Regions from separate parts of the Homo sapiens genome. Here region 1 is linked to region 2. The links come from fine-mapping of genetic effects on gene expression. A gene starts in region 2. The other region holds a variant in brackets. All regions are shown on one strand. Distances are between the middles of the regions.

Region 1 (14,968 bases), 41 kb before region 2:
AGTTTCTTCATCTATATGTACTGGGAATATTCGTACTTACCTCCTTGGTTGTTTAGCTGATAAAAGAAGATGACAGAAGTGCTCAAAATAGTGCCTAGCATAGCATAAACTTTCAATAAATATTAGCTGCCATGACCATTGTCACTATTATTTTCAGTGGTGGCATAAATTATTAAATTTTTGGAAGGCAGTTTGGCGGTAGGACTTACAGAGCCTTTGATTTGGTAATTCCAGTTCTGGAAATCCAGGCTCACTCTCCTAAAATCCAAAATATTGGGGGAAAATGACGTGCCAAGATATTTATCACGGCATTATTTGCATAATAGCAAAGAATTGTTAGTTTCCCCAGATACTCAGTAGTAAGGGCATCCTTGAGTAAATCCTGCAGCTACTTAAGATGAAGAGGTCATAAAAAGCCAGAAAAGGGGGATTTGAGATTTACCAGTTGCCTCCTATGTGTTTGATGCTTCATCTGTTTTATGTCTTTTAATCCTTGAAATAACCCTCTGAGGTAGATTTTTTTTTTTTTTTGAGACAGAGTTTTTGTTCTGTCGCCCAGGCTGGAGTGCAGTGGCACAGTCTCGGCGCACTGCAACCTCCGCCTCCTGTGTTCAAGCGATTCTCCTGCCTCAACCTCCCAAGTAGCTATGATTAGGATTACAGGTGCCCGCCACTGCGTCCGGCTAATTTTTGTATTTTTGGAAGAGACAGGGTTTCACCATGTTGGCTAGGCTGGTCGTGAACTCCTGACCTCAGGTGATCCGCCCGCCTCAGCCTCCCAAAGTACTGGGATTACAGGCGTGAGCCGCTGCACCCAGCTGAGGTAGATTTTTTATTCCTGCTGGAGAAGTGAGGAATCAAGGCTCAGCGGTAGCCATAGCCCGTTGCTCAGGGTCACATGGCTTGTCGATGGCTGAGCTGGAATGCAAACCCCGGCTTGCTGGGCTCAATGCTGACTCATGGGGGAAGCCTGTGCTGTATAGTTAAGTGAACAACACAGGATACAAAATCCTACCGAATGATGATTTCAGCTACTGGAGTGGCTTTACACAGAAGGTGTGCTTTTCTCCCTGTGCAGTTGGTTGAGCCTTTGGAAACAGGGAACACCGCGCTGCTCTTGCAGCATTTTGCAAGATTTGCTCAAACAACGTCTGTTGGGCAAGGAGTGCTGGTAGTCCTGATCATTTTAATACTGTTAGGATTTTTCAGTAACTGACCTGGTGCTCCAGTAGAGTGCATTGCTCTGCCCAGAGCCAGGACAGCTTTTCCTGACTTTTAGTTATCATTAAATATCCGAATAAAACCATCGAGGAGTTCTTTTTTTTTTTTTTTAAATGTGGTTGATTAATTGAGGTTGTCGGTCAGGTACGATAGCTCACAGCTATAATCCCATCATGTTGGGAGGCCAAAGTGGGAGGATCAGTTGAGGCTAGGAAGAGTTCAAGACCAGCCTGGCCAACATAGTGAGACCCCATCTCTTAAAATAAAGAATTGAGAGAATGGAGGTTATTAATTAGACAACTAGAGTAGGAATAGACTTAAAGACGGAGGAGGTGCCTCCTTTAGATATGGACGCTTGGAGCCTTTGTGGTTCCAGTCTGAGCATCACTGGTGAATTTGATGAAATTTCCAAATTTAGAAATAAGTATTCTATTTCACAGTGCTTAAGGATCACTTTGTTCGCCCTTAATTTGCAATATAGGTATATTTCCATACGACAGAAGTTGGTGAGGGAGAAAAACATTGTGTATTACCTGGCTTCCATAGCCACAGGAGGCTGCAGATGTCTGGGTATAGGGGGGTAATTAGCTCTAGAGAGTCCTCTGGCTCTGCCATCAGCTCACCGCACCAGTGAGGCTGGGGGAGTGGTTTTAATTGTCTTGTGGCTACATTACAGACACAATATGGGTTATAATGAAAATATACTTCAATATGCTGAATTTAAATAGATACGTATTCTGCCTTTTAAGGGGAAAAAAATAAGCATATTGTATAACCAGCTCCTTGTGAATCTCGAAGCCACAAGCAAGAAAGAGCCAGGCTTCAGCTTCATGGTGGCTCCCAAACCTGTCACCCCTTTCTTAATAAATGAGCTGCTCCTTGTTGGTAACTGCCACAGAGATGAATGGAAGTACCTTCTGTGGTACCGTTTATCCCCAGTCCTAATGTCTAGCCACGAAAATAAGGGCATCACTGTCAGCCTCTGAATTAAAAGAAAATCAGAGTCCAGGAACCAAGAAGCTTATGGTCTGTTGCTCTTAGGAAATGCCATTTCTGGAGATAGAACTGGTACCAAGTCATGATCCCTTGTCCTTAAGGAGTGCAGTGATCAGAGCTGACAGTGTCTTCTGACAGGGTGTTTCCAAAACAGTTGCATCAGGGGTGGGATTGTGGTTCCACTGGGGCTGTTGTGGTGCTCACAGGGAGGAGGGGTCACCCTCACACAGTGTTTCAGGAGAGGAGCCCGTGGGCTTTCTGATGGGCTGGTAGAAGTGCGCAGGAAAGAGGAGTGGCGCATAGGGTGTAGGTTTTTAGATCTGAGCAAGTAGGGCTGCACAGCCCTGGGTGGAAATGGGGAGGGCGAAATGGGGGACAGACTTAGGCTTAGGGATGAATGTCACGGGGTCAAGAATTCTGTTTCAGACTTTTTTTGCAATGGGATTTTCTTCTTTTATTTGTTTATTTTTATTGCTTGGTCCACGGTGCTTCGTGGTACATTTTCCTACCGCTTCGTGGTGCATTTCCTTACCTATGGGACCCTCAGGAAATGCTGACAGTATGGCAGTTGAGGTGAGATTTCTGGAGATAGAACTGGTACCAAGTCCTGATCCCTTGTCATTAAGGAGTGTAGTGGTCAGAGTTGACAGTGTCTTCCTCGGCAGCCATCCTCAGCAGCCATACTCTCCTATAAATGTTGACCAGGCCACTCCACCATGTTCCTTCCAGGCTCCCAGATCCAGCACCTGACACAGGTGGGGATTGCCAGCAGAATTGGAGCTCAGCCAGTGGAAATCCCGCCAAGCAGAGGCAGCCAGTATGGGGGGCCAGGCTGGCCTTCGTACGGGGAGGACGAAGCGGGGCGAAGAGAGGCCGTGAGTATCTCCTGTTTGGGTCATCATTTAAAATTTAGACATAGGCCAGGTGCGGTGGCTCACACCTGTAATCCCAGCACTTTGGGAGGCCGAGGCGGGCGGATCACGAAGTCAGGAGTTTGAGACCAGCCTGGCCAATGTAGTGAAATCCCGTCTCTACTAAAAATACAAAAAAAAATTAGCCAGGCGTGGTGACGGGTGCTGGTAGTCCCAGCTACTTGGGAGGCTGAGGCAAGAGAATCACTTGAACCCGGGAGATGGAGGTTGCACTAAGCCGAGATCGTGCCACTGCACTCCAGCCTGGGTGACAGAGTGAGACTGTCTCAAAAAAAAAAAAAAAAAAAAAAAAAAAAAGACATAATCCCTCAATTTAGCAGCTTCTGCTTTGGGGGGGGTCCCTTTTTAAAACCTACATTTAAAAAAGTTTTAATCTCTCTCACATTTTCCTGCCTCCTGGTGTTTTGGCTTACAGTTTTTAGCATCTAGCTTTTAGGAAGTATATAATTTTTCTTGAGGCAGAGTTCAAGCTTTCAGTAGTAAATTCGAATCTATAGGTGACAACTCTGGAGTTCATGTTTGGCGGGATTGCTGTATAAATATTCATGCTCTTCCACAGCATTTGTGTTTCACTGTGGGTTTGTTAATGTCATTTGTATTATGACCATGTGTAGGTAATTTTGTAATAAGCACACAGTTGGGGACATTTTAAGGCACAGGTTTTCTTTTTGAGACTTCTGTTCACTCAATATGAGCATCGGTAATTCCTACAAGTGCTTTCATTTGCTTTTCTCAAGAACTGTATATCTTGGGGGGATAAATTCATGAAGTTTGAAAATAACCACCCAGAATATTACTTTTTGTTTTCTCCTTATCGTTATGCTACAGTGTCTGTTGCATTTCTGTGCCTTCCCAACAGACACACTCAATTCCTTTCATGGCTGGATGCTCTTACCTAGTAAAAAGACATTAACTTTAGAATAAGGTGCTTCCCTAAAAGAGACATTGTTATACTTAGAGTCTCAGGTATCTGCTTTAAGTTTGCTGCCATTTCTCTTTTTTTGCCTTCATTTTGCCCAGCTTAGCTTCATGAGGTGTTTGGGGTTGGTTTTGGTGTTTTGTTTTTTTGAAAAAATGGAGGCAAGGTCTCACTATGTTGGCCAGGCTGGTCTTGAACTCCTGGCCTCAAGCAATCCTCTCTCCTTGGCCTCCCAAAGGATTGGGGTTACAAGTATGAGACACCGTGCCTGGCATGGTGTGTTAAGGTTTTCCTGTCACATCCACTTTGGAACACTGCTCGGTCACTATTTGGAGAAGTGAAACGTAGAAAGAACCTAGAGCTGGAATGTCATGTTTGGCTCACAAATAACTTAGCCCTAACATGGTTTTTAGTACGCAGATTTAAGTACTCTTACATATAAATGCAAAGAGACATTTATTTCCACTGGGAGAGAAATAAACATGAAAAAAAAATCTGAAAAGTGTAATAATTCTTGTGAAACTCCTGCCAAATTAATCTCTATGCGGCAAATATCAGCAAAACTATTTTATGCTTTAGTGCAGATAAGTTTTTAAAGACAAGGCTCTACAGAGCCCTCAGTAGACACACACTCACGCAGAGACAGGAGACAGACAGCAGCTAGATAAAGCAGAAGATGGTTGCGTAGGCTCCAGTCCAGGGCAGAGGCACCTGTTCCCCTTGTCAGCCTGGCATGGATCCGCTTAACCTCCTTCAGCTCTCAGATATCACCCGACCTTTCACATCATGGGGCACTCCAGCCTCCCTCCCTTCTGTTCTCCCCAGCCCCCTGGTGTCTTCACGCCTCACCTGCAGCATAGGCAGCAGGGCCCTGTTAGAGGGCTGAGTTGGTGGATGGACGTGGGCAGTCCTGGGAACCTTCCTAAAGCCAGTTTGCATTTGATGTTTCGGCTTATTCTTCGTAGGAAGTACAGTGACGTTTGCCATGTTTTTCAGACACACATGCTCGGACATCAAGAGTATTCTTCTTCACCGCTATTTCAGGTGCCAAGGACTTCAGGCAGGGAGCCCTCAGCTCCTTCCGGGAACCTCCCCCACCGGGGACTGCAGGGCCCTGGGCTGGGTTACCCCACCAGCTCCACGGAAGACCTCCAGCCTGGCCACTCCTCGGCCTCTCTCATCAAAGCAATCCGCGAGGAGCTCCTCCGGCTCTCCCAGAAACAGAGCACCGTGCAGAACTTCCACAGCTGATCGGCCTCGCCTCGCAGATTTGCCAAGTATCCGCTTCCTGTGGAAGCAAGACCAAAAGGAAATCAACTGAGTGGGTGTTTGGAAGAGGAAGGAGCAACTCTCGGGCAGCCTGCCCAAGGGAGGGAGCAAGTTGCAATTTAGAAGATGCCATACGTCGTGTGACAGCTCATGAGCCTTTCACTGGGCTGGCAATTGTCTGAACACTTGGGTTCAGTTGAAATATATGTATTTTGGCCAAAAGCCAGCAGCACTTCACAAAAACAAAACACAAACCTAAGCTAACAAAATGACTGCATTCGTCTCTTTTTTAAAGGTAGAGATTAAACTGTATAGACAGCATAGGGATGAAAGGAACCAAGCGTTTCTGTGGGATTGAGACTGGTACGTGTACGATGAACCTGCTGCTTTGTTTTCTGAGAAGAGGTTTGAAGACATTTTATTAACAGCTTAATTTTTCTCTTTTACTCCATAGGAACTTATTTTAATAGTAACATTAACAACAAGAATACTAAGACTGTTTGGGAATTTTAAAAAGCTACTAGTGAGAAACCAAATGATAGGTTGTAGAGCCTGATGACTCCAAACAAAGCCATCACCCGCATTCTTCCTCCTTCTTCTGGTGCTACAGCTCCAAGGGCCCTTCACCTTCATGTCTGAAATGGAACTTTGGCTTTTTCAGTGGAAGAATATGTTGAAGGTTTCATTTTGTTCTAGAAAAAAAAAATCCCTCCCAAAGTGGGGCAAAAAGCTTTATATTTATTTGATTATCCAAAATACAGATCAAAGTTTAGATCTACATTCTTCATTGTATTTGCTGTTTCTTAATTGGGCACACACAACTCCTGGTCATGTCCCAGTTCAGCACCGATCGCTAAGGCCGATCCTGTAGAATGCGGCTTTCAAGAGGTCCTAACTGATCCTTTCTTCCACTTTGCTGTTGATTTGTTCACAAATTATGTCTGAATGAGAAATCTTCTGTAAGCAGAAGTTATTTAATAATTCCCAGCACCACGAAATTGTTATAC[A/G]TACATCCCTACCAGTCACATTCCCTGTGTTCAGAGCCTGGAAATGAAATTGAGTTCAGTTCAGCCTCTCTGTAATGAATCAAGAAATGTAAAAGAGCTTTGAGACCCCAAGGGAAAGGAGAGAGTTGCTTCTCATTTCTGATTTTATTGTGCTGTTACTCTGTCGAGTGGCTATTAAAATTGTCTTATGCTCTTTGGGCTAAGAGGGGATCATCTCGCTTAAGATGTACTCCTGATGTAAACATTTCCCCCACTTTCCAAATAATGGTAAAGAAAACAGTGGCAAGGGCTGTTCTGTTTTCTGGTACCTGAGTGAAACTCAGAAGAAAAGCAGGCTTAGCTAAGAGATTTTCACTATTAACCTGTTTTTATTAGATCAGCGAAGACAGTCATGCATCGCTTAATGATGGGGATGCATTCTGAGAAATGTGTCATTAGGCTGTTTTGTTGCTGTGCCAACATCCTAGATTGTACTTACACAACCTACATGGTATAGCCTACTACACACCTGGGCTGTGTGGCATGGCCTATTCCTCTTAGGCTACAAACCTGTACAGCATGTTACTGTACTGAACACAATGGTAAGTATTTGTGTATCTAAACATAGCTAAACATAGAAAAGGTATGGTAAAAATACAATTTTATAATCTTATGGGACTACCATCAATATGTAGACCGTCATTGACCAAAACATCCTGATGTGTGCATGACTGTACTTTTCATTAAATAACAGATAAGGGGCTATAGAATTTGGGGCTCTGACTGATCAAAACCTGTGTATCTGTGTCAAGTTTTAAGACCCCTGAAACAGCTAAAACAGGTTTCCAAAGTGTAATCACTGGATTTCAAAACCATGTTTTAGCCCTTCATTAATGAAGCCTGTTGTACAGATTTAGAGTCTTACAATATGAGGGAAGTTGGTTCTGGGAAGGTAAGATGTAGCCAGTTTTCATCTGGGCACCTCTGAAAGAGAAGGAGTGCAGGAGAGTAAGTCTCTCAAGGACGTTCAACAAAGGACCAGCAGCATCTTATCAGGCGATCCTCAGAGGCTCCAAGGAGCATTGGAGAGAATGCCCCTTTCTGGGCTTGATGTCTTGGTTTTGGTTTAATACCAAATTTCTCTTGGTCTTGGTTTAATACCCGACTCCTCCCAAATTGAACGATTATCTTTGTATGTCACTCAAAAATACCAGGTTTCCTGAATATGTTATTAAGAATTTCAGATATCCAAGCAGAATTTTATTATGGACACCTTGTAATGAATTCAAATCGTGTGACAGCAAACGGGATAAATGGCCCCTTCTCACCCAGTTCCGCTCAGGGCCATACAGGCTTGCACATAGAGTGTGCTAAAAATGGTAACCTCCTTTGAGCATTGCAGAAAGAGGGTTCTGTTTCAAATTGGGCTGACCGTAAAAGCAATTTTGATGTCTTTCAAACTACCATAAAGGGATTTTAACTGTATTTTTATTCTTAGAAACAATACACCTTTAAACAGATGTCAAGACCAAAGATGATGTATAATAAACAGCCGGTGGTTATGGTGTGGTGTGAGCAGGCCCCCGGATCACCAGCCCTCTGCTGGTGGTCATAAAGCACACACAGTTTGTACTTGCTTCCTCTCGACGCCTGCCACAACAGTTTTGCCAGTCACCAAACTCAGAAAAAACTAGCTGTGTGAGCAGCACCGTACCCTAGCGGTCTTCAGACATTAAGTTCACGTCATCCACTGAAAGGAAGGGTCCTTGCGTTGACAGCGTGTGGCTTTGGAGTCCGTTTATGGAAGCACTCTACAATGAACAGTTGAATTTTATGTCTATTCTTTTTTCCTATTTTAAAAGTTCTAGTGGTAACACAAACTGTAAATTTGAGTCAGAATGTTTGGAGAAATGTTGTTTTTTTTTTTTTCAGAGACTACTTTGTCACTCACTGACCATGTCTGGTTCCTTCTCTGAACTTCATTCTCCCCATAAGCCAAACAAGAACAGACCTCCCCCGCCACCTCCCAGGCACCGTAGTTGTGAGAATCAGATGTGATCATGTGTGCAGATGTCCTGTGAGGAGGGAGCATAAAGCACTGTGAAAATGTAGCATGCTGTCTATGTGGACGCCCTAGGATGAGTGATGTGAAACGCTGCACTACTGCGGTGAATGGGTTCACACATGGGTAATGAGCAAAACCGAAAGCTCGGTGTGACTCAGTTTCCTCACTCCCATTTTGCTTTAATTTCACTTCCTTCACCAATTTTCCGATTGCATTTATTAAGCATCTTTCTGCTCCCGACTTTCTGGTGTCTCTGGCACCAAATAACCCAGCAGACATGAGCCTTGCCTTCTGAGATTTTAGAATCTAAGATAGCACGAGTGGGTATAGAAGATGGAAGATACCGATAAATAACATGGTTTAAGTGTCAATAAAATTCATTCGAAGAGATCAGGCGCGGTGGCTCACGCCTGTAATCCCAGCATTTTGGGAGGCTGAGGCAGGTGGATCACTTGAGATCAAGAGCTTAAAACCAGCCCAGGCAACATGGCAAAACCCCGTCTCTACAAAAAAATACAAAAACTAGCTGGGTGTGGTGGCGCATGCCTGTAGTCCCAGCTGAGGCACGATAATTGCTTGAACCCGGGGGGTGGAGGTTGCAGTGAGCTGAGATTGCACCACTGTACTCCAACCTGGGCGACAGAGCAAGACTGTGTCTCAAAAAGAAAAAAATTTGTTCAAAAGACATAAATGAATTAGGCACCCAGAAGAAGTTGCATGTTTGGAAATGCAATATCTTGGGGAGACGTCAACTTCTGAAGTGACTTTGAAGGCAGGGCAGCTACCCAGGCAAATGGCGTGGAAGGAAGAGCTGAGAGTGGGCCTGGGAAAGGCTGTAGGGAAGGAGTGAAGCTGTCACTGAAATGAACTTGATCTTGATCTGCTTTGATATGGGGACAGAATCCCCGACTGCACTATTGAGGGAGTTTCAGAAGAGAAGGAAGAGGTGCTGGAAGGATGCTTTTGCAGTCATGCAGCAAGGAAACGACCAGGGCTGTGAAGATCTACAGAGGAAGTACTCCAGTGTGGGGGAGGCAAGGGAAGAGGACGAAAATGATGAGAATGACACTGAGGTCATTGTTTAGAGCAGATCTCAAGCAGCCGTTTGGCCACGCCATATCCTTTGTGGAGCATAGTGGGTTATCTATCTGTCTGTCTGTCTATGTATCTGTCTATCTATCTATATATATATTCAGCTTCTTTACTGCTACCTACACATTTTTCTCCAAATTTTATTAATTTCATAGTGTTTTGATTTGGGTGGCAGATGACTTTTAAGCAGTGGGTGTTTGCCGGCCAGATCTTTCCTGGCATGCGGACTGTGAGGCAAAGCACGGGTGAAGGTAGGCGCTAAAGGCTTTGGGCTAAAGCCAGCACGCGGTTCTGTGCTATAGGAGTCTCCCGTTTCCCGTGGACAGGTTCAGCGTTCCTTCTTTCGCACAACTTTTTTCTAAGTGTTCCAGTGACCAAGCCAGTCATTCGGACACTGATTTGCAGTGCATTGGCAGTAATTCACAAATTAGTTGTTATATAAGTCTCTCTCATCCCTTTCACACTAGATTCTCAGACATGAATGAATTTGTCGTTTGGAAGGAAAGCTGGGTAACGTTTTGGGCACAGGGGAAGGAGGACTCCGGTCTTAACTCCCACGCTAACTTTAGCTCAAGTGGAGTTTTCACCGTGGTCATTTCTACCTCCGGAGCAAGGTGCCAGCGCCAGTACTAGAGCCTGCTTATCCACATTTGCCCTGGACAGGAGCAGGAGGAAGTCCACTTCTGTACCGGCAGACAGAGCATGTGAACACAAAACACATTTCTATGGCATAGTCAACTGAACTTCATTTTTACATTTAATCTAACATGTTAACACGTTCTAACAGGGTTTCTATGAGCAGCTGCTGTAACATACTCATCAACTATGATAGACTTAACACTTGTTACCTAATGAACAAGGAGGATGTGCATTTCGGGTTTCTTTTGATATTCGTGGAGGTGATTGTCAGTGTTTAAACAGGACTACTTTCTCCACTATGAAGATGACTTGGAAATCGCAACATCATGGTACATTGCTAAGTCCATGCTTGTGTGTGTGACAGTAGGCTTGATAATTTATCTTAAAACACAGCAGCATTGAAATTTAGGAAAAGAATATTAAATGCCTTTGGAAACATGAAACAAAGTTAGGAGCCAGTAAGAAAGTGACAGAAGCAATGAATGTCTTAATGCAGTATAGTTAAAATGGCTTCCCACAGGGTAGATAATTATCCAGGATCCTTCCTTTTCCTTCTTCCTCCAGGTTTTTCAGGGGTCACTTCACATTTCTAAAGAAAGAGTGAATAGGCTGGGCATGGTGGCTCAAGCCTCTAATCTCAACGCTTTGGGAGGCTGAGGCAGGAGGATCGCTTGAGGCCAGGAGTTTGAGACCACCTTGGGCAACATAACGAGACCCCGTCTCTACAAAAAAAATTTAAAAATTAGCTGAGCATGGTGGCATGTGCCAGTAGTCCCAGCTACTCGAAAGGCTAAGACTGGAGGATCGCTTGAGCCAATGAGTTGGAGGCTGCAGTGAGCTATAATCACGCCACTGCACTCCAGCCTGGGCTGCAGGGTGAGGTCCTGTCTCTGGAAAAAAAAAAAAAAAAAAAAGGAATAGGTAAAAGGGACAGAGGTGAAATTTTGAGTGACTTGAGTCTCTTGCAGTCCCTGATTACACAGAACCTTTCTGGGCTACTTGGAGCATCACGAATAGTCTTTCCTGTACTTACCAGATTTCAAGTATTCATAACTTGACTCCCTAAGTGTACAAGTTGGGAATAGTACAGGGCCAAGTTCAAGTCGCATATGCTGTACTGTTCCTCCTGCAAATGTGGGGAAAGAAGAGGGAGATACTAGAGGAACTGAGGCTCCACCCATTCATTCAGTTGCTCTAAGCACCAGAGGACTTGTTTCAGAAAAGGGGAGTGGGAACGCCCTCGACTTTGCCCTCCTCCGGAGCATCTCTGGGACGCAGGGAGTCTGGCTAGCGTTAATAGGAAAGGTTGCTCGGCAGAGCTGCCCTGGAGTACTGACTTGTCTCTCCCTCCTTTGTCAAGGTCCATGTTTTTCTGGCTCTTCCTGCACACTCATCCCTAGATTATGAGCGTTAATGTACGAAATGTGCAGAGCAAATTGAGGCCAACTGTGGCATCAATACTGCAACTTAAACTTGACAATCATGGTTTGCTGGTCCTCAAACAGGCACTGAAATCTCAGTATGGGTATACGATTTAATAATCGGCCCCTCCCTTCTATTTGTCGGTTTTATGTTTCTATCCTTCAATAGCTGCACTGTTTTCTAATGTGCTGTAGAGTTTTTGAAATAATTTATGCAAGTATTTGGTTTCCATGTTTACAATTTATACAGCTTTCCTAGCATTTTAAATGGAAATGTCAATAAATGCTATGAATTGGTGTCAAAGTGATATTTTCTGTTGATTTCCTTTGCAACATGATAGTTTTCTCGTTTGTAAAACATGAAACATTGGATGAGATGATCTTTCTGTTCTCTAATTTTGTGTCTCTGGTGAGAACACCCAGTACTTTTGTTACTGGTGGAGGGTGTCCAGGTTCTTGGCGTCTTGAACAAAGAGTTGGACAAAACACACAAAGCAAGGAAAGAATGAAGGAATTTATTGAAAATGAAAATACACTCCACAGTGTGGGAGCAGGCCTGAGCATAGGGGCTCAAGGGCCCGGTTACAGAATTTGTGGGGGTTTAAATACCCTCTAGGGGTTTCCATTGGTTACTTGGTGTACGCCCTATGTAAATGAAGAGGTTTAAGTAAAGTCACACAGTCATTTACTCGACGTACACCCTATGGAGAGGATGTTTCCTGTCATAGCTGAACTGTGGCTCGGCCTTATGTCCCCTACTCCAGACCCCATTTTCCTGCCTCACTTTCATTGTCCAAGAAATTAAGTTGAAGGTATTCTATTCAGTGTGTGGAATTTGCAGACTTGTTTTCACTCGTTTTTGCCTGTGCCAATCCTTTCTACTCAGTGTAGTTTGACTGCTACCCACTTAGCAAATGGATGAATCCACTAAGAGCAAATTCAGTTTGGAATTAAAAGATTAGTGCCTCACAATTTAGAAAGATGAGAAGACCAAAGTCCACACAGTCTTGAAAGGTAATAGGATAACCCTGGAGTTGTTTACACAACCCAAGAAAACAAGATCCCCTTGAAACTTAGAAAAGGGGATGGGCGCTGTTTCTCACGCCTTAATTCCAGCACTTTGGGAGGCCGAGGTGGGTGGATCACTTGAGGCCAGGAGTTCAAGACCAGCCTGGCCAACATGGCAAAACCCCATCTCTAATAAAAATACCAAAAAAAAATCAGCCAGGCATGGTGGCGGGCGCCTGTAATCCCAGCTACTCGGGAGGCTGAGGCAGGAGAATTGCTTTAACCCAGGAGGCAGAAGTTGCAGTGAGCCGAGATCGCGCCACTGCACTCCAGCCTGGGTGACAAAGTGCAACTCTGTCTCAAAAAAACAAAAACAAAACTTGGAAAAGGAACTCAAAACACAGTGGAATATAACAGCTAAATGACACAGAATCCTGGATAGGATCTTGGAATGACAGCAACAACAAAAGAGAATATAGTGGGAAAACGTGAAATCCAAATCAAGTCTATAGTTAACAGTATTGTACAAAGATTAACGTACTGGTTTTGCTAACTTTATTATGGTTATTGAGATTTTAATATTAGAGGAAGCTATGTAAAAGGTATCCTGAAACCCTCTAAATCATTTTTGCATCTTTTTATCTTTTTTCTAAATCTAAAAGTATTTAAAAATATAAACACGAATCTGGCACAGGTAAAGCCCACAGACCTTCTGCAGAGGCTCATATAATCCTGTCCTGTGCATCCACAACCCAGGGGCTCTGGTACTTCTCAGGGCGAGCTGCTAGCTTTGAAACCACAGTTAACAATTGCAAGTCTTGGCAGAAAATAAACCTTCAAGAAGGAGGGCTGGTGGGGTCAACCAAAAGGAGAATTTAAACCTAAAAATCCAAGAAAATAGGCCAGTATGAAAGAGATAAATAATACGTTAGATGTTTAAAGAGGTTAAAAAGAACTAAGAACAGGATATTATGTAAAAGTCTAAGCAAATTTGCCGAAACCAAAAATAAGTTCTCAAAAGGGATTTATTTTATTTTATTTATTTATTTATTTTGAGACAGAGTCTCGCTCTGTCCCTGAGGCTGGAGTGCAGTGACGCAATCTCAGCTCACTGTAACCTTTGCCTCCCAGCTTCAAGCGATTCTCATGCCTCAGCCTCCAGAGTAGATGGGACTATAGGCGTACTCCACCACGCCTGGCTAATTTTTCTATTTTTAGTAGAGGTAGTGTTTCACCATGTTGGCGGGCTGGTCTCGATCTCCTGGCCTCAGGGTGATCCACCCGCATTGGCCTCCCGAAGTGTTGGGATTACAGGTGTGATCCACACTGCACCCGGCCAGAAAAGAAATCTTTAAAAAAGACAATATACACACAACGGTCAGATATTTAATATTTTACACATAACTGAAGAAATAACTATAACAGTTTTAATAATTTTATGTTTTAATCTAACTTTAGATGGAAAACAACAAAAATAGTGGAAACTAACTGGTAGAACTCATTACAAGATTTTATATGCTCTGAATGTAAATAGGTTTGAAATGACAGAAGAGCAGGGAGTTACTAGAAACAGCTAAGACTTACAAGAAAGGGCAGGCTGATCCCACGCTCAGAGCCTGAACCCCCAGTTCAAATGAATATAACCAGGCGCGGTGGCTCACACCTGTAATCCCAGCACTTTGGAAGGACGAGGCAGGCGGATCACGTGAGTTCGGGAGTTCGAGACCAGCCTGACCAACATGGAGAAACCCGTCTCTACTAAAAAATACAAAATTAGCCGGGTTTGGTGGCACGCGCCTGTAATCCCAGCTACTCAGGAGGCTGAGGCAGGAGAGTCGCTTGAACCCAGGAGGTGGAGGTTGCAGTGAGCCGAGATCATGCCATTGCACTTCAGCCTGGGTGACAAGAATGAAACTCTGTCTCAAAAATAAATAAATGAATAGGGATTTGAGTCATAATTGGCATTTCTTGTCCCTCTGTCCTCTTCCTCTCTGCACCTGCCAAGCAGAGCTTAAGGTAAGAAGAAAAGAATAACAAGAACAGAGATCCTTTTGTTCAGTTTCTAAGTTAGATTATTAATGAAAAGTTCTCATCGGATAGTGCCCTATTAAGTAACTTTCTCCCTCTACAGAACTCGGTACTTTCCTTGCCACACCCTTCTGCACATCCTGGAATAAATGGGGGTGGGTGAGTTTGATTTCTCTACTGCTGAAGACTTGAAAAATTGTAGCCACAAATCTAGGTAAACCACATTTGTGTAGCTGAACTATTATTTGTTGTATTTGTGCCAAAGTATAGCATTACAGAAGTGTAAGACACAGAACCTATCTGGAAAACTCATAAAGCTGTTTCTGAGTGCCTGATTGGTAGCTGGTTCCATCAGTATCTTGAAAATATGCGTTAGTTTAAGTACAGGTATA
Region 2 (14,968 bases):
CAGCTCACTGCAACTTCTGCCTTCTGGGTTCAAGCAATTCTCCTGCCTCAGCCTCCCAAGTAGCTGGGATTACAGGCACGCACCACCACACCCAGCTAATGTTTTGTATTTTTAGTAGAGACTGGGTTTTGCCATGTTGGCCAGGCTGGTCTTGAACTCCTGGCCTCAAGTGATCCACCCACCTGGGCCTCCCAAAGTGCTGGTATTACAGGCATGAGCCACCACGCCCAGCCTATCCTTCGTTTTAAGTGCCTAAGTTAATGCATTCGGTCATTCAATGAGGGCAGGATAAAGGGAACCAGACAAAATAAAGTGGAACTTTCTCTTTTTTTTTTGAGAGGGAGTCTCACTGTGTTGCCCAGGCTGGAGTGCAGTGGTGCAATTTCGGCTCACAGCAACCTCTGCCTCCCAGGTTCAAGCAATTCTCCTGTCTCAGCCTCCCTAGTAGCTGGCACTACAGGCGCATGCCACCACATCCAGCTAATTTTTTTCTATTTTTAATAGAGACAGGGTTTCACCATATTGGTCAGGCTGGTCTCAAACTCCTGACCTTAGGTGATCCACCTGCTTCATCTTCCGAAAATGCTGGGATTACAGGCATGAGCCACTGCGCCCAGCTGCAAAACTTTCTATTAGCTAGACATGCATAATAGTGGTTGCTCTATGAATTACTGAGCGCCTTGTGGCTAGAAGTAGGCAAGAAGAGGAAAAACGTGCATAGAAGAAGAAGAAATATGTATGCCAAGGACGCCAAAACCAAGCTGTTGCATTGGGTGGAAGTTGGACTAGATGATTTCTTATGGCCTTTCCACCTCCAAACTTCTTCAAGCATTTGAACCTAGGGCATTGTTAGCTGCTGACCTGGGATGGGTCATTAAAGCAATCTGTGTCAAAGATTGTGCACCTAGATGGGGATCAGAGCCAAGAAAGCCTTTCAGACCTGCTCTGCAAATAGTTCTGGGACAAACCACACTGGTGCACAGGAAGGCCAGGCAGGCCCTTGCCCACTTGACACCAATCAACGGAAAGCGGGGAGGCCTTTGTTTCCCTCCCAGGCTGAGGGCCAGTTCTGGGGTTAGAGCAGTTGGCAGGAGAAGCTTACTGAGGCACTGCTCCAGGGTCCCAGGGTCTGGGTGGTGAGCGGTCAAGCTTGAGCTGTTGCTGCTGCTTGCTTCTGGAAGAAAAGATAGGAGATAGTCTGAGGCACTGGCAAAAGCTATTCCCAGGCATAGATTTTGAAATGTTTTTTGTAAATCAGTAGTGAGTATTATGAAAGTATTATAGAAGCTCCCGCATGGGCATATTGAGGCTTTCTGCAACAAAGCTAACTCCCTGTTATGGACCGAATTATGTTCCCCTCTCCCAAGTTTCATATATTGAAGTCCTAACCCCAATGTGATTGTATTTGGAGATGGGACATTCGAAGAGGCAGTTAAGCTTAAATGAGGTCCTATGGGTGGGCCCTAATCCAATATGGCGGGGTCCTTATAAGATGAGGAAGAGGCCAGGTGCAGTGGTTCACACCTGTAATCCCAGCATTTTGGGAGGCCGAGGTGGGCAGATCACCTGAGGTCAGGAGTTCAAGAACAGCCTGGCCAACATGATGAAACCCTGTCTCTACTAAAAATACAAAAGCAGCCGGGCGTGGTGGTGCATGCCTGTAATCCCAGCTACTTGGGAGGCTGGGGCAGCAGAATTGCTTGAACCCAGGAGGCGGAGGTTCAGTGAGCTGAGATCACACCATTGCACTCCAGCCTGGGTGACGAGTGAAACTCCGTCTAAAAAAAAAAAAAAAAGAAGAAGAAGAAGAAGAAGAAGAAGAAACATCAGCAACACACATGCACAGAGAAAAGTCCACGTGAGAACCCAGTGAGAAGGCGTCTATTTGCAACCCAAGGAGGGAGGCCTCAGGAGAAATCAAACCATCAACACCTTGATCTTGGACTTCCAGCCTCCAGAATGATGGCTGTCAAAAAAAATTAAACATCATAGAAGCAAGCCCAGAGACTGCCAGAATACGCAGCACATAGATTGATTCATGAGCAAGGAGTGGAAAGATAAAAAGGACTTTAGCATGAATTGTTAAAGTCCTGTTGTCTTGAGGTGTGGGATTGGGTTAGGGATCTGAGGCATCCAGGTTCCTGTCCATAACTGACAATAAGAAGAGAGATGACCTCTAAGTCCATACTGTTCAATACGGCAGCCACTAGCCACCTGTGGTTGTTTAAATTTATTAAAATCAAATTCAGTAAAAAAAACTCAGCTTCTTGTTTACATTAGACCCATGCCAAGGGTTCCATTGCCGCGTGTGACTAGTGGCTACCATATTGGAAGCACCACTCAGACATGGGACATTTCCACCCTCAGTGCAAGTTCTATTATTAGACAGTGCTCATGCTGACCTAGGTAGATGGAAACCAAGAGATGGATTGGAAGAACCTTCCTAGAAATTATATTGCTGTTCGTTCTGCTTCTTGGGGAATGCAAAAAGGAAAAAAAAAAAAGTGGTGGGCATGGAAACTCTCAAGGTTCCCCTGGCTGTGGGTCAGTGTGTCCTTCAAGGGAGCTTGTTGTCACAGCAGGACGAGTTCAGAAGAAACCTGCTGTTTAGCTAAAGCCATGAAGTTGCTGCTGAGACTAATTTTATGCCACCCAACCCCCAAGCCACTCCAATGTCCTGCTTAAAGTATAGTAATTGCCTCGATGCAATCTGTTACTGTAAATTATTTACAGCTAAATGGCTTAGAGCCTGGTCTTTATTTGTTTTGGAGAAACTGATTCCTCACTATTCTAATTTTCCTTATGACTCAAATAACTTCCTTGGCCCTGACTTTCATTTCACCTCTACACCTAGAATGGAAGTTGTCCTCTTCCAAAGTGAGTGGAAAAAAACCCTAGTTGGCTGAATGCTAGGGTTAGGTTCGAGCTTATGAAATTGCCATTGTTATAGGTGAAAATTGTTCAATATCAGCAATTTTCTGTGGTTCAAATGGAATAGCCCCGGTGAAAATTCCTAAGAATTTAAACATCGCCCTCCTCCCTTATAAGCAGAGCCAGAAGCGAGGGAGGGACTGGCCCTACTTGGGGCTATTCCACAAGAAAAGCTGCTGGGAAGACCCAACGATTCAGTGCAGTTAAACTTGTCTTCTGATTCTGAGCTCCCATCATAAGCAAGGCACTGTCGGGGTAAGTAGAAAGAAACTCAGCACTCTTATTTGGGGAGGGGTGAAGTTGGAAAATAAAATGAATGTGCTTACCATAATTGCTGACATTCACTGTGTGTGTTCTATGGGCTATTTCTAAGTTCTTTACATGAAATTACATCAATTCGTCTTGACAAGCACTATGATTGTCCCCATGAGATAAAGGAGGAAACTTGGCATAGAGAGGTAAAGTCATTTGCTCGAGGTCGCATAGCTAGTGAGTCATGGAAGCTGGACCTGGGTTCAGGCTCAGCGGCTCAAGAGTGCACGTCTTGAACCTCAACACCAACACCCCTGGCAGTGGCTACAGAAGAGAGTCTGAGGATGAGAGGGGCAGACACAGGACTTTGGGGGCAGGGTTGGTTTTGGGAGCAGGAGTGTTGCAGGGCATAGAGAGTGTGGTGGTGTTCTGAGGTGGCTGAGAACAAGATCAAAGCCAGGAGCAGAAGATGGTAACCAAGGTCCCTCTGCCGTGAGTTGCAGAACCCGGCCTGGCAGGGCAAGGCAGGGGATGTAGATCAGCCTTCCAGCCTCCACAGGAAAATGGGGAGATAACCCAGCATTTCCAGTGCCCGGGGAGGCAGGAGGGTGGGAGACAGTGAATGGCAGCCCTCCTGGCAGTCAGGTTTTGTGAAAGTCGCAGAGAAAGTACAAGGGGCAGGGAGGGATGGAGGACTTAGGAAAGGGAAGGTCAGACACAAATGTGCACAGGGAGGATTGCAAAGCACGACAGCCCAGTGGGGCTGAGAAGGAGCCTTCAGGACACAGCGGACCAAGAGATATCATTTTGGTCCCCTGATGGGTGAGACTCCAGCAAATAACTTTTTCCTTTCTTTGTGGCAAAGGCCAAGAGAGGTGGCTGCTCCTGCCTTAGCTGAGGAATTGAGTATCTGATCTCCGTCTCAGGCCAACCTAAGACCCCCCCTGCCCCAGCCCCACCTCCCACCCCCTGCCTAATCCTTCAGATGAGAAAGTTCTGTTTCCTCCTTCCTTTGCGCAGGACCAACCCTGGCCAAAGAATCTTCCCCCTCCTCCTTCTTTCCCTCCCACCTCTCTTCCCTCCTTCCCTCCCCCTTCCCAGCCTGGCCATGAATAAAGCTCATAACGCTACCTGCCGAGCAAGCCGAGTGGAGGGAGGCAAAGGCCAGGCTGAGGATCAGGGTGGCCCGGGTGGCAGCGGGGAGGCGCTGCATGCTGGAGGCTGTGCTGAGTGCCCGGTGCAGGTGAGCCGGTCCTGCGGAGTTGTGCCGAGTGCCTGCTGCAGGTGAGTCGACTCCCACCTGCAGGAGCTGGAAAGCAACTCTGCCAGAGGTGAACTTATGCTGGGTGTTTGGGGGAAACACCATGGGGTGGAGCAAAGGAAACTTGGCCTGTCACACCTTCTCTCACCTCTCTAGAAGGGAAGCCAAACCGTTGGCTGAGGAAGGAAGGGAGGGGCAAGCTGTGCCCTTCTCCCCTGAGCGCAAATATTGTCCTTATTGAGAAACAAGGGGAGGACAAGAGAGATCTGTGTCATGCTGGTTCCTGGGACATGAGTTTGCTGCCTCTCCCATCTGCAGGTGTAGCATGGATGCTCAATTCCATTTGGGCCAATATTCACTGAGCACCCACTATGCTGAAGTTGGGAGATACCTGCTGTCGAAGTGCGTTAATTACAAACACGCATCATTCAACCCCAGAACCGTGTTTGAGGAATGGCTTGGGAGGATAAAGCACTGTGGGTTTCAACAGTGGAGGCCACATCTGCTGATGGGATGCTTCAAGAAGAAAATGGCATTTGAGGTTGGGCATGGGGGCTCACCCTGTAGTCCCAGCACTCTGGGAGGCTGAGGCAGGTGGATCACTTGAAGTCAGGAGTTCAAGACCAGCCTGGCCAAAATGGTGAAACCCCATCTCTAATAAAAATACAAAAATTAGCCAGGTGTGGTGGTGCATGCCTGTAGTCCCAGCCACTTGGGAAGCTGAGGCAGGAAAATCGCTTGAACCCGGAAGACAGAGGTTGCAGTAAGCTGAGATGCTCCTGACCCTGCATTCCAGCTTGGCCGACAGAGGGAGACTCCATCTCCAAAAAAAAAAAAAAAAAAAAAAAGAAAATGGCATTTGGCCTGGGCCTTGAAGGATGGCTAGAATTTTGACAGGGGGAGAGGGGAAGATGGCATTATAGGTAGAGGGACAGATGAGCAAAGGTCCAGAGGTAAGGAAGTGTCAGAGGGTGGCTGTACCAGCAGCACCCAGAAGCGCAGGTGAGCCAAGGCATGTGAGGTGGGGAGGCAAGAGGAGAGCTGTGGGCTAAGCTTCTGCGTGCCTGGTAGAGGAATTTGAAACAAAGTCAGGAAGCAAAGGGGAAGGTTCTGTAGAGATTTTGAGCTGAGGAGTAACTTGACTAGAGCTCTGCATTCCGTCTAAAACATTTATTGAAGACCCACATGTATATAAAAGGTCTCATCCTAGGCACTGGAGACTGAGATGACTGAGACACGCCTCTTCCCCTTGAGAGCACAGTGCAGCAGGGAACCAAACCCGGAAGAAAGAAATTTGATGCAACCTGGCAAGACTCAAATAGGGGTACCTTCCACTGTGATGGGAATAAAAAGGAGGATGGGATGAACTCTGCCTGAGAGGTATAGGGGAAGGATTCACAGAGAAAGTGACATTTGGGCTGGGTGCTGAAGTTTGTATGTGCAGATTAGAGTTGATGGGCTTTTCAAGTCAAAGGAATAGCACCTATAAAGGCGAGGGAATCGTCTGTGTGCACACAGCCTGCCATGTGTGGAAGTGTTCCTGCGCATGAATGGGCCTGGTAAGGGTGAGGGGTGGACTCCAGCTCTGTGGAAAGACATAGAAGGCGTGAGTAAGCCCCAAGGAAAGATTTCCTAGTGGAGTGTAACAGCCCAGGGGAGGCACTTTTTTCTAATTGGCTCTAAGATATAAAATAGTGGTGGCCTATGTTCCTGGATTTGGGGATAGGGCCAACGTGCCCTAGGAAGGGTGATTTTCAGTCAGTGCACAGAAGTCCAGTTTAGGCATTACCACTAGTTGAACATTAAACAGTTGCATGCCAGGCCAGGCTCTCGGTGTGGGGACCTGGGGGTGAGAAAGACCACACAGCCCTTGTGCTCAAGGAACTCAAGGTCCCCACAGAGAGGACGCTGCTTAGTAGAACAAATGCTGTCCTCGATGTTTTCCTCACAAGTAAACCCTGCAGTGGGCTTCACAGGGCAGGACTGATTTATCCAATGGGTACTAGGGATAACAGCGGTACGTGGAATCCCCAAGATTTCCAAGGATCTCAAAAATGTTTGAGACCTGAGAAAATATTCTCAGATCCAAAATTTGAAGAACAGACCAGGCATATTGGCACACGCCTGTCATCCCAACACTTTGGGAGGCCGAGGTGGGAAGATCACTTGAGCCAGGGAGTTCAAGACCAGCCTGCACAACATAGTAAGACCCTGCCTCCGCAAAACAAACAAAAAAAAACACAAAAAAATTACTTGGGTATGGTAGTGTGCACCTGTAGTCTCAGCTACTCAGGAGGCTGAGGTGGGAGGATCACTTGAGCCCAGGAGGTTGAGGCTGCAGTGAGCTGAGATGGCACCACTGCACTCCAGCCTGGGTGACACAGTGAGACCCTGTCCCCAAACAAACAAACAAAAATTTGAACAATCAAAAACTGGGCAAAATAAATGATTGTTTCAAAAGCAAAGTTATACAGTTCACTTGAAATGTTTAAACGGAAACGATTTAATGTGGGACGCTGGGTGCATTTTAATGTGTTTGACGTGAGCAGAGCCTGTCCCTCCTATGGAATCGGAACCTGAGGTATGCAAACATGTAAGATGGCCTGCCTGGGGTTATTGTAGTGGTGGATTGAACAGCATCTGCAGCCTAAGCTGAGACCATCCTATCAAGTCGTATCAGGGAAAGCTTTTCTGGCAAGCAGTGGATGTGGAGGAGGGGGATAATGTGTTGGCCCTCCCTCCCTATTTTATCATTGTTATGTGATGTCGGACTGTTTTAGATGAGCTGTTTGTAGGACAAACATTCTCCTATCTACAGATGGAAGAACTTTGTTATTCGAAAATAGTATAGGCTGGGCCAGGCACGGTGGCTCAGGCCTGTAATCCCAGCACTTTGGGAAACTGAGGCAGGTGGCTCATTTGAGGTCAGGAGTTCGAGACCAGCCTGGCTAACATGGTGAAATCCCATCTCTACTAAAAAAATTCAGAAATATTAGCCAGGCGTGGTGGTGCATGCCTGTAATCCCGGCTACTTGGGAGGCTGAGGCAGGAGAATCACTTGAACTGGGGAGGTGGAGGTTATAGTGAACCGTGATTGTGCCACTGCACTCCAGCCTGGGCAACAGAGTGAGACTCTGTCTCAAAAAAAAAAAAAAAAAATAGGGTGGGCTGGACTGGCCAATGATAACTATTAACCCCAAAGAAAGGGCTGTGTGTGTGTGGCCACTTTTTACTTTACGAGTGTCACCAGTATTTGCTGTTTGTAGCAGGTCTACAACTAACAACTCCATGTGGCCCATTTCCTCACTCATACATTTTGCATCAGGTTTACTTTGGAGCGCATATCAGGAAGTTGCCTTACTCAAAGCTAGACTTTCTCAAGACTTTTTTTTTTTTTAAATGGGTGAGATAGGTATTTGGTTACACACACTATTTTAAAAGTTCAGGCTGAAATGTCTGTGGCTAGGCACCATGGTGGTGGTTGGAGAGAGGAGTAGCCAAGAGAGTGGGATTCCAGGGCTCTTACTGCTTCCAATTTCACCTGTTATCCCTGATAAGATTTCATGTGAAAAAGAAAAGAAGTAGGCAGAGAGTTTCCAGGGCTAAAAGATGGAAAACCTGCAGTCTGTGGCCTGGAACGGCCCAGGGAAGAATATTTCATGTTAATGAAGCTTCTCTTGTGATTCTGATAGGCCCCGTTGCCACCTGTCCATCTCGGGGAAAAGACCTCTCACCTTGAACTTGGGTTTTTCATCTCCAGTTAACCCAAAATCTATTCAGAGGAGAATTGTGGCCCTAACCAAGCCTGTGCCTGCCAAGCCCCAGCTCCCTCACAGAGATGGGGTTGATGGCTCTTCTTGCTCCTGGCTCTGTCAGGATCTGTTTTTACAAAATAATGTCAGGCTCTGGGTGGTTGTGGGACCGAAACATCTAGATGTGGACCTGAGCAGCACTTAGTTTGTGGAGGAGTTAACCTCACTCCCTGCCCTTCAGTGATGGGTCTGTAATTTGGAGAGAACAAGAGGTTCCCTTTTAGGAAACCTTGAGAACTACAGCTGTTAAGATCATGCCATAGAGTTAGTTGATCAAAGTAAGAAAGTCAGCAAGGAAGTCCTGGAGTCCACCATTTGGAATAATTTTTGAACACTTCCCAGGATGACTAATTTAGCTTGTTCAAAATTGCACTGGGAGGCGGTGCAGCTATGGTCCAGACACGCGGAGGTTAACACAAAGGAGGTCCTTCCTCTTGGCGAAAACAACCTTCCACCTAGGTCCTGTATCTTATTCCCTCCCATCTTCTCTGAAGTATATTTCTTAATTTCCAAACATACGGAGGTTTTCTAGTTATCTTTTTGTTATTGATTTGTAGCTTAGTTGCACTGTGACCTGCGAATATACTTTGATGATTTCTATTTTTTGATGTTAGTTAAAAGACACCATATGACCAATTTTTGTGGCTCTTGAATGTGTCATGCAGTTGTGGGGTCAGTGCTCCGGGTAAGTCCATTAGATCAAGAGTGCTAATTGTGTGGTTCAGAACATCCATATTTTTCCTGTCTTTTAAAATTTGGTCTAATTATTCTGTTGAATACAGAGATGATTGCGGGTTTCTTTCTTCCCTGTAGTTTTGTCAACTTTTGCATTCAATATTTGAGGCTGTAATTGAGGTACAAACAAATACGGAATTTTGACAACTTCCTGGCAAATTGAACCTTCTTTTAAAAAATCATTGTGTAATATCCCTCATCTCTTTTATATTTTTGAGATGGAGTCTCTCTCTGTCGCCCAGGCTGGAATGCAGTGGCACGATCTCGGCTCACTGCAACTTCCACCTCCCGGGTCCAAGCGATTCTTCTTCCTCAGTCTCCTGAGTAGCTGGGATTACAGGCGTGTGCCACCACCCCCGGGTAATTTTTGTATTTTTGGTAGAAACAGGGGTTTCACCATGTTGGCCAGGCTGGTCTTGAAATCCTGACCTCAGGTGAGACTCCCGTCTCAGCCTCCCAAAGTGCTGGGATTACAGGTGTGAGCCACTGCGCCCAGCCTTCTTTATCTCTAGTAATGTTTTTTTGCCATAAACTTTACTTTGTCTGATATTGCTGTAGCTATAACAGGTTTCTTTTGTTTTGTTTGGCATGCTAAATCATTTTCCCATCATATTACTTTCAACTTTTCTAAAACCCTGTTCAAGATGGGAGGATTTCTTGAGCCCAGGACTGTGAGACCAGCCTGGGCAACATAGTGAAACTCTGTTGCTACAAAAAAAAAAACAAAACAACAAAAAAAAAAACAAACCTGAGTTTGGTGATGCAAGCCTGTGGTCCCAGCTACTCAGGAGGCTGAGATAGGAGGATTGCTTGAGCCCAGGAGATCCGAGATGGCAGGGAGCCATGATGGAGTCACTACACTCCAGACTGGGTGACAGAGTGAGACCCTGTCTCTAAAATTTAAAAACAAACAAATCAATCTATCAGCTTACCAAGTGCTCTCTACTCTTCCCATCTAGCTTATGTTCCTTTTCTCTTTCTTCTCACTACTTTTGGATTGAGTTGTTGGGTTATTCCATTTTGTAGAGATTACGACATGCATTCCTTTTTTGTTGCTTTTTAAGATTATTTTATTCTGCAACCCAGGAGCATAGATCCAAGTTACCCTGAATATATGTTCTCACAAGTGCATTCTTAACATATCAAAGTCTAATATTAATTGACACTTTCACCACTTTCATAGATAATATGAAGACCTCAGAACTTTAACTCCATTTACCCACTCGCCCAGGCTGGAGTGCAGTGGCGCTATCTCGGCTCACTGCAAGCTGCCTCCTGGGTTCACGCCATTCTCCTGCCTCAGCCTCCCGAGTAGCTGGGACTACAGGTGCCCGCCACCACGCCCAGCTAAGTTTTTGTATTTTTAGTAGAGATGGGGTTTCACCGTGTTAGCCAGGATGGTCTCGATCTCCTGACCTCGTGATCTGCCCACCTCGGCCTCCCAAAGTGCTGGGATTACAGGCGTGAGCCACCACACCTGGCCTATCCACTCCTGATTTTTATACCATTGTAGTCATGTATGTTAGTTATACACATAGTTTTTAACTCAATAAGTCATTATTATTATTATTTTCCAAGTGAATATATGAGTGAAATTTATTAAATTTATTTACATGTTTACCGGTTTATTGTTCTTAATTTATTTCTGCATGTCTGGTCTTCCATCTGTGATCATTTTCCTTCTCTTTGAAGAATACCATTTAGTATTCCCTCAGTGGAGTGATTAACATGTTACTTTGTTTGTCTGGATATGTTTTTATTCTTCCTTCATTCTTGGAAATCACCTTCATTGGGTACAAAATGTAAGGTTGGCAGATATTTTCTTTCAGTGCTTTAAAGATAACATTTCATTTCTTTTGGCTACCATTGTTTCTGTTGAGAACTGTCCACCTCACTGGGGCTTCATTGCAGATAATTTGCCTCTTTTATTTTTTGGCTGTTTTTAAATTTTTCTTTGCCTTTGGTTTTCAGCAGTTTTACTCTGATGTGCTGAAGTATGGATTCCTTTTTTGTCCTCTTTGGAGTTTGTAGGCAATTGGATATGGAGCTTGATGTTATTAATAAGTTTTGAAAACTTCTCAGCCATCAAATACTACTTGTGAACCATTCTCTCCTCTCTTTTTGTGACTGATTACACATAGGTTAGATCTTTCCACTCCATCCTGTAATTCTCTTACCTTCTTCTTTATTCTTTATCTTTTTGTTTTCCTGTGTTTTACTCTGGATATTGCCTTTTGCCCAGTCTTTTATGAAATCTCTTGTCATCTGTGTCTAATCCTCTTTTATAACTACCCATTGGGTTCTTAATTTCGATTATCTTAGTTTTAGTTCCAGAATTTCCATTCTGTTCTTTTTTATATTTTTTTTTCTGCCAAACTATTCAGTCCTGTTTTTCATCTTCATAAACAGAGGGGATATAATTCCTTTAAAATCCGTGTCTGATAACCTCAGTCTTCGCCATTCTTTTCCCATTCGTTTATTTCCATTGTCTATTATTTCTGCTGTTTTCATTCATATGATCATGTTTCTTTGCATACCTGGTTATTTTTTATTGTGGGCAAAATTGCAATTACATACTATTGTTTATAGAAATAACTTGAGACCCAGGATAATGCTTTCTTCCTGTAGACATGATTTTTGTTGTTGTTGCTTTAATCGAGTGCTTGGGGGCAACACAAATCTGCTATCATGTCATTCCGGTCTCAGGAATTGAGACGATGTGTGTCAGTTTATTTTGGATACCTTTCCTTCTATGGTGTAGCCCTTTAGAAATTTCATCCCCAAGGAAATAACCAAAGATGAGCACAAAAATGCATATCCAAAGTTCTCCATCTCAATATTACAATGTTTGTAAAAGTGAAAGCTTGGAAGCAGTTTATAATGAAATAAAGGGTAGCTATTAAAACCGTTTTTGGGACTGGGTATGGTGGCTCACACCTAAAATCCCAGCATTTTGGAAGGCCAAGGTGGGCTGATCACCTGAGGTCAGGAGTTTGAGACCAGCCTGGCCAACATGGCAAAACCCCATCTCTACTAAAAATACAAAAATTAGCCAGTCCTGGTGGTATGTGCCTGTAATCCCAGCTACTCAGGAGACTGGAGGCAAGAGAATCGCTTGAACCCAAGAGGCAGAGGTTGCAGTGAGCCAAGATCATGCCACTACTCTCCAGCCTGGGTTACAGAGCAAGACTCTATCTCAAAAAAACAACAGCAACAGCAGCAACAAAAAACATTCTTGGGTACCATTTAATCACTTGGGAAAACATTTGCCATAGTATACAAAACAGAAAAGCAGGATATAAATCTTTATGTCAATATAATTCCAGTTTTGTAATATATACACATATACAATGAAAAATGTTTGGAATGAATCCTCTCAAAATGTTAGTAGTAGTCATATCTAGGATGTACAGTTTTGGGTGGTTTTAATTTTGTTTTTAATACTTTTTTGTGTTTCCATTTTAAAATAATGAATGTGTATATTATTTTTATGATCAAGAAATAAAATCAAGTTAATACTTTTTTTTTTTTTTTTTTTTTTGAGACAGAGTCTTGCTCTGTCACCCAGGCTGGAGTGCAGTTGTGCAATCTAGGCTCACTGCAACATCTGCCTCCCGGGTTCAAGTGATTCTAGTGTCTCAGCCTCCCGAGTAGCTGGGATTACAGGCATGTACCACCATGCCCAGCTAATTTTGTATTTTTAGTAGAGACAGAGTTCTCCATGTTGGTCAGGCTGGTCTCAAACTCCCAACCTCAGGTGATCCACCTGCCTCAGCCTCTCAAAGTGCTGGGATTACAGGCGTGAGCCACTGCACCTGGCCTAAGTTAATACATTCTTAAAGATTATTTCACAGGAAAGCAATACAGTCACAATGAAGCAGACAGATTTTACATATCTGTCCCATTACCTGGGAAAAATGTTCAATATCAGGGAATCTTCTTTTCCATTAAAAAAACAAGCTGGCCAGGCATGGTGGCTCACGCCTGTAATCCTAGCACTTTGGGAGGCTGAGGTGGGTGGATCACTTGAGGTCAGGAGTTCAAGACCAGCCTGGCCAATATGGTAAAACCCCATCTCTACTAAAAATACAAAAACTAGGCAGGCGTGATGGTGGGCACCTGTAATCCCAGCTACTCGGGAGGGTGAGGCAGAAGAATTGCTTGAACCCAGGAGGCAGAGTTTGCAGTGAGCCGAGATTGCACCACTGCACTCCAGCCTGGGCAACAGAGCGAGACTCTGTCTCAAAAAGAAAAAAAGACAAAAACAACAACAACAACAAAAAAAAACCCCCCAAAAAACCTTAACCTTTAAGTTTCACATGGTGCAGATTACTGCCTATCATAGCCTCAGCTCTTGGAGTGCTCGTGGTCACAATGGAATGTACAGACATATCCACGGATGGTCAGGACACAAAGAAGACTAGAAAGAAGACACAGATATAACATCGGATTACAATTAGAATCTCAGTGTTGGAAAAGGACCTCAGAGACCATCCGGGCCAATCTTTAACCTTGGAAGAATGCCCTCTGAATTAATCTGTTCTCACGCTGCTAATAAAGACATATCCAAGGCTGGGTAATTTGTAAAGAAAAGAGGTTTACTGAACTCACAGTTCCACATGGCTGGGGAGGACTCACAATCATGGCAGAAGGCAAAGGAGAAGCAAAGGCACATCTTACATGGTGGCAGGCAAGAAAGCGTGTGAAGGGGAACTCCCATTTATAAAACCATCAGATCTTGTGAGACTCATTTCCTATCATGAGAACAGCACAGGAAAGACCTGCCCCCATGATTCAATTACCTCCCACTGAGTCCCTCCCACAACAAGTGGGAATTATGGGAGCTACAGTTCAAGATGAGATTTGGGTGGGGACACAGCCAAACCATATGACTTTCCTATAAGGAAAGTAGGATATTATAGAGTTTGGTATAGCTGCATTTGACCTGTCCTGCTTCTTAAGGTTGTTAGTTGGACTTCTGCTTAAATGCCTCAAGGGATTGGTTTCTTACTAATTTTTAAGACAGCCAGCTCTTCTGTGGGTTAGCTCGGGTAGAAAAGTTTGTGAGTTACTGTCATCAAACAAGTAAGGGCATTTTAAGGTGAAGTTAATAAACAGTTGGAAGGAGGGCTTTTCAGCTCTCAACTCTATGATTGGCAATTTCTGGTTCCCTACAATTACTCTTATCATTTGTGCAAAATATTTCTGTTGGCACAACAATCTGAGCATGTGGTCAGATTCATCTTTTGTTTAATAAACAGAGAGATTTGTTCTCAAAGAGTAACTTTAAGCTAAAGTTTTTGGAAATAAGCTGCAGGTTTGTAATAAATATTCCGCCAATTTTTCTTCTCCAGTTTTGTTCACATAAAACCGAAGCGAACCAGATAGTCAAGTCAATGATTGTTTGGACCTGTCTTCCCAACATCCAAAGACCCCTCTCTCACTGTGTTTTCTGGCCTTTTCTATAACTTCCCTTCATTCTCTTTCTCTTTTTTTCTTTTTCCGTTTTTAAGACAGAATCTCACTCTATTGCCCAGGGTGGAGTGCAGTGGTGCAATCACAACTCACTGTAGCCTCCACCTCCTAGGGCTCAAGCCATCCTCCTGCCTCAGCCTCCTGAGTAGCTGGGACTACAGGCATGTACCACCACACCCAGCTAATATTTTTTATTTTTAGTAGAGTTGAGGTCTTGCTCTGTTACCGAGGCTAGTCTCAAACTCCTGGGCTCAAGCGATCCTTCCGCCTCAGTCTCTGGAAATGCTGGGATTACAGGTGTGAGTCACTGCTCCTGGCCTCTTTTTTCTTTTTTGAAAATGCTTTGTCCATATGTTTCATTTTATTTATGTATTTATTTAGAGACAGGGTGTTGCCTAGGTTGGAGTACAGTGGCTATTCGCAGGTGCAATCACAGTGTATTACAGCCTCGAACTCCTGGGCTCCAGTGATCCTCCCACCTCAGCCTCCTTAGTAGCTCGGG

Direction of the effects. Alleles are on the strand shown, and positions count from the first base shown. SD is a standard deviation of normalised expression in the study named.
As copies of A replace G in region 1, the expression in prefrontal cortex of the gene that starts at base 4,507 in region 2 goes down (moderate effect, 0.69 SD a copy in BrainSeq).

Evidence for each region.
Region 1: its variant is fine-mapped to the expression of TMEM213 in prefrontal cortex (BrainSeq, PIP 0.95).

What each region holds. Positions count from the first base shown.
Region 1 is chr7:138,828,257-138,843,224 of GRCh38, reverse strand. KIAA1549 reads left to right here. Exons shown (of 20, transcript NM_001164665.2): 19 at 2,947-3,092; 20 at 5,065-11,844. The coding sequence ends at 5,319. Among named protein-coding and RNA genes, the nearest start is that of ATP6V0A4, 38 kb to the right of the region's middle. RefSeq lists a silencer at 10,967-11,261 and an enhancer at 12,342-12,841. The variant A/G (reference allele first, on the strand shown) is at 6,345.
Region 2 is chr7:138,787,533-138,802,500 of GRCh38, reverse strand. TMEM213 (transmembrane protein 213) reads right to left here and starts at 4,507. Exons shown (of 3, transcript NM_001085429.2): 1 at 4,315-4,507; 2 at 1,103-1,174. The coding sequence starts at 4,396. ATP6V0A4 (ATPase H+ transporting V0 subunit a4) reads left to right here and starts at 4,305. Exons shown (of 22, transcript NM_020632.3): 1 at 4,305-4,467. RefSeq lists a silencer at 4,243-4,537.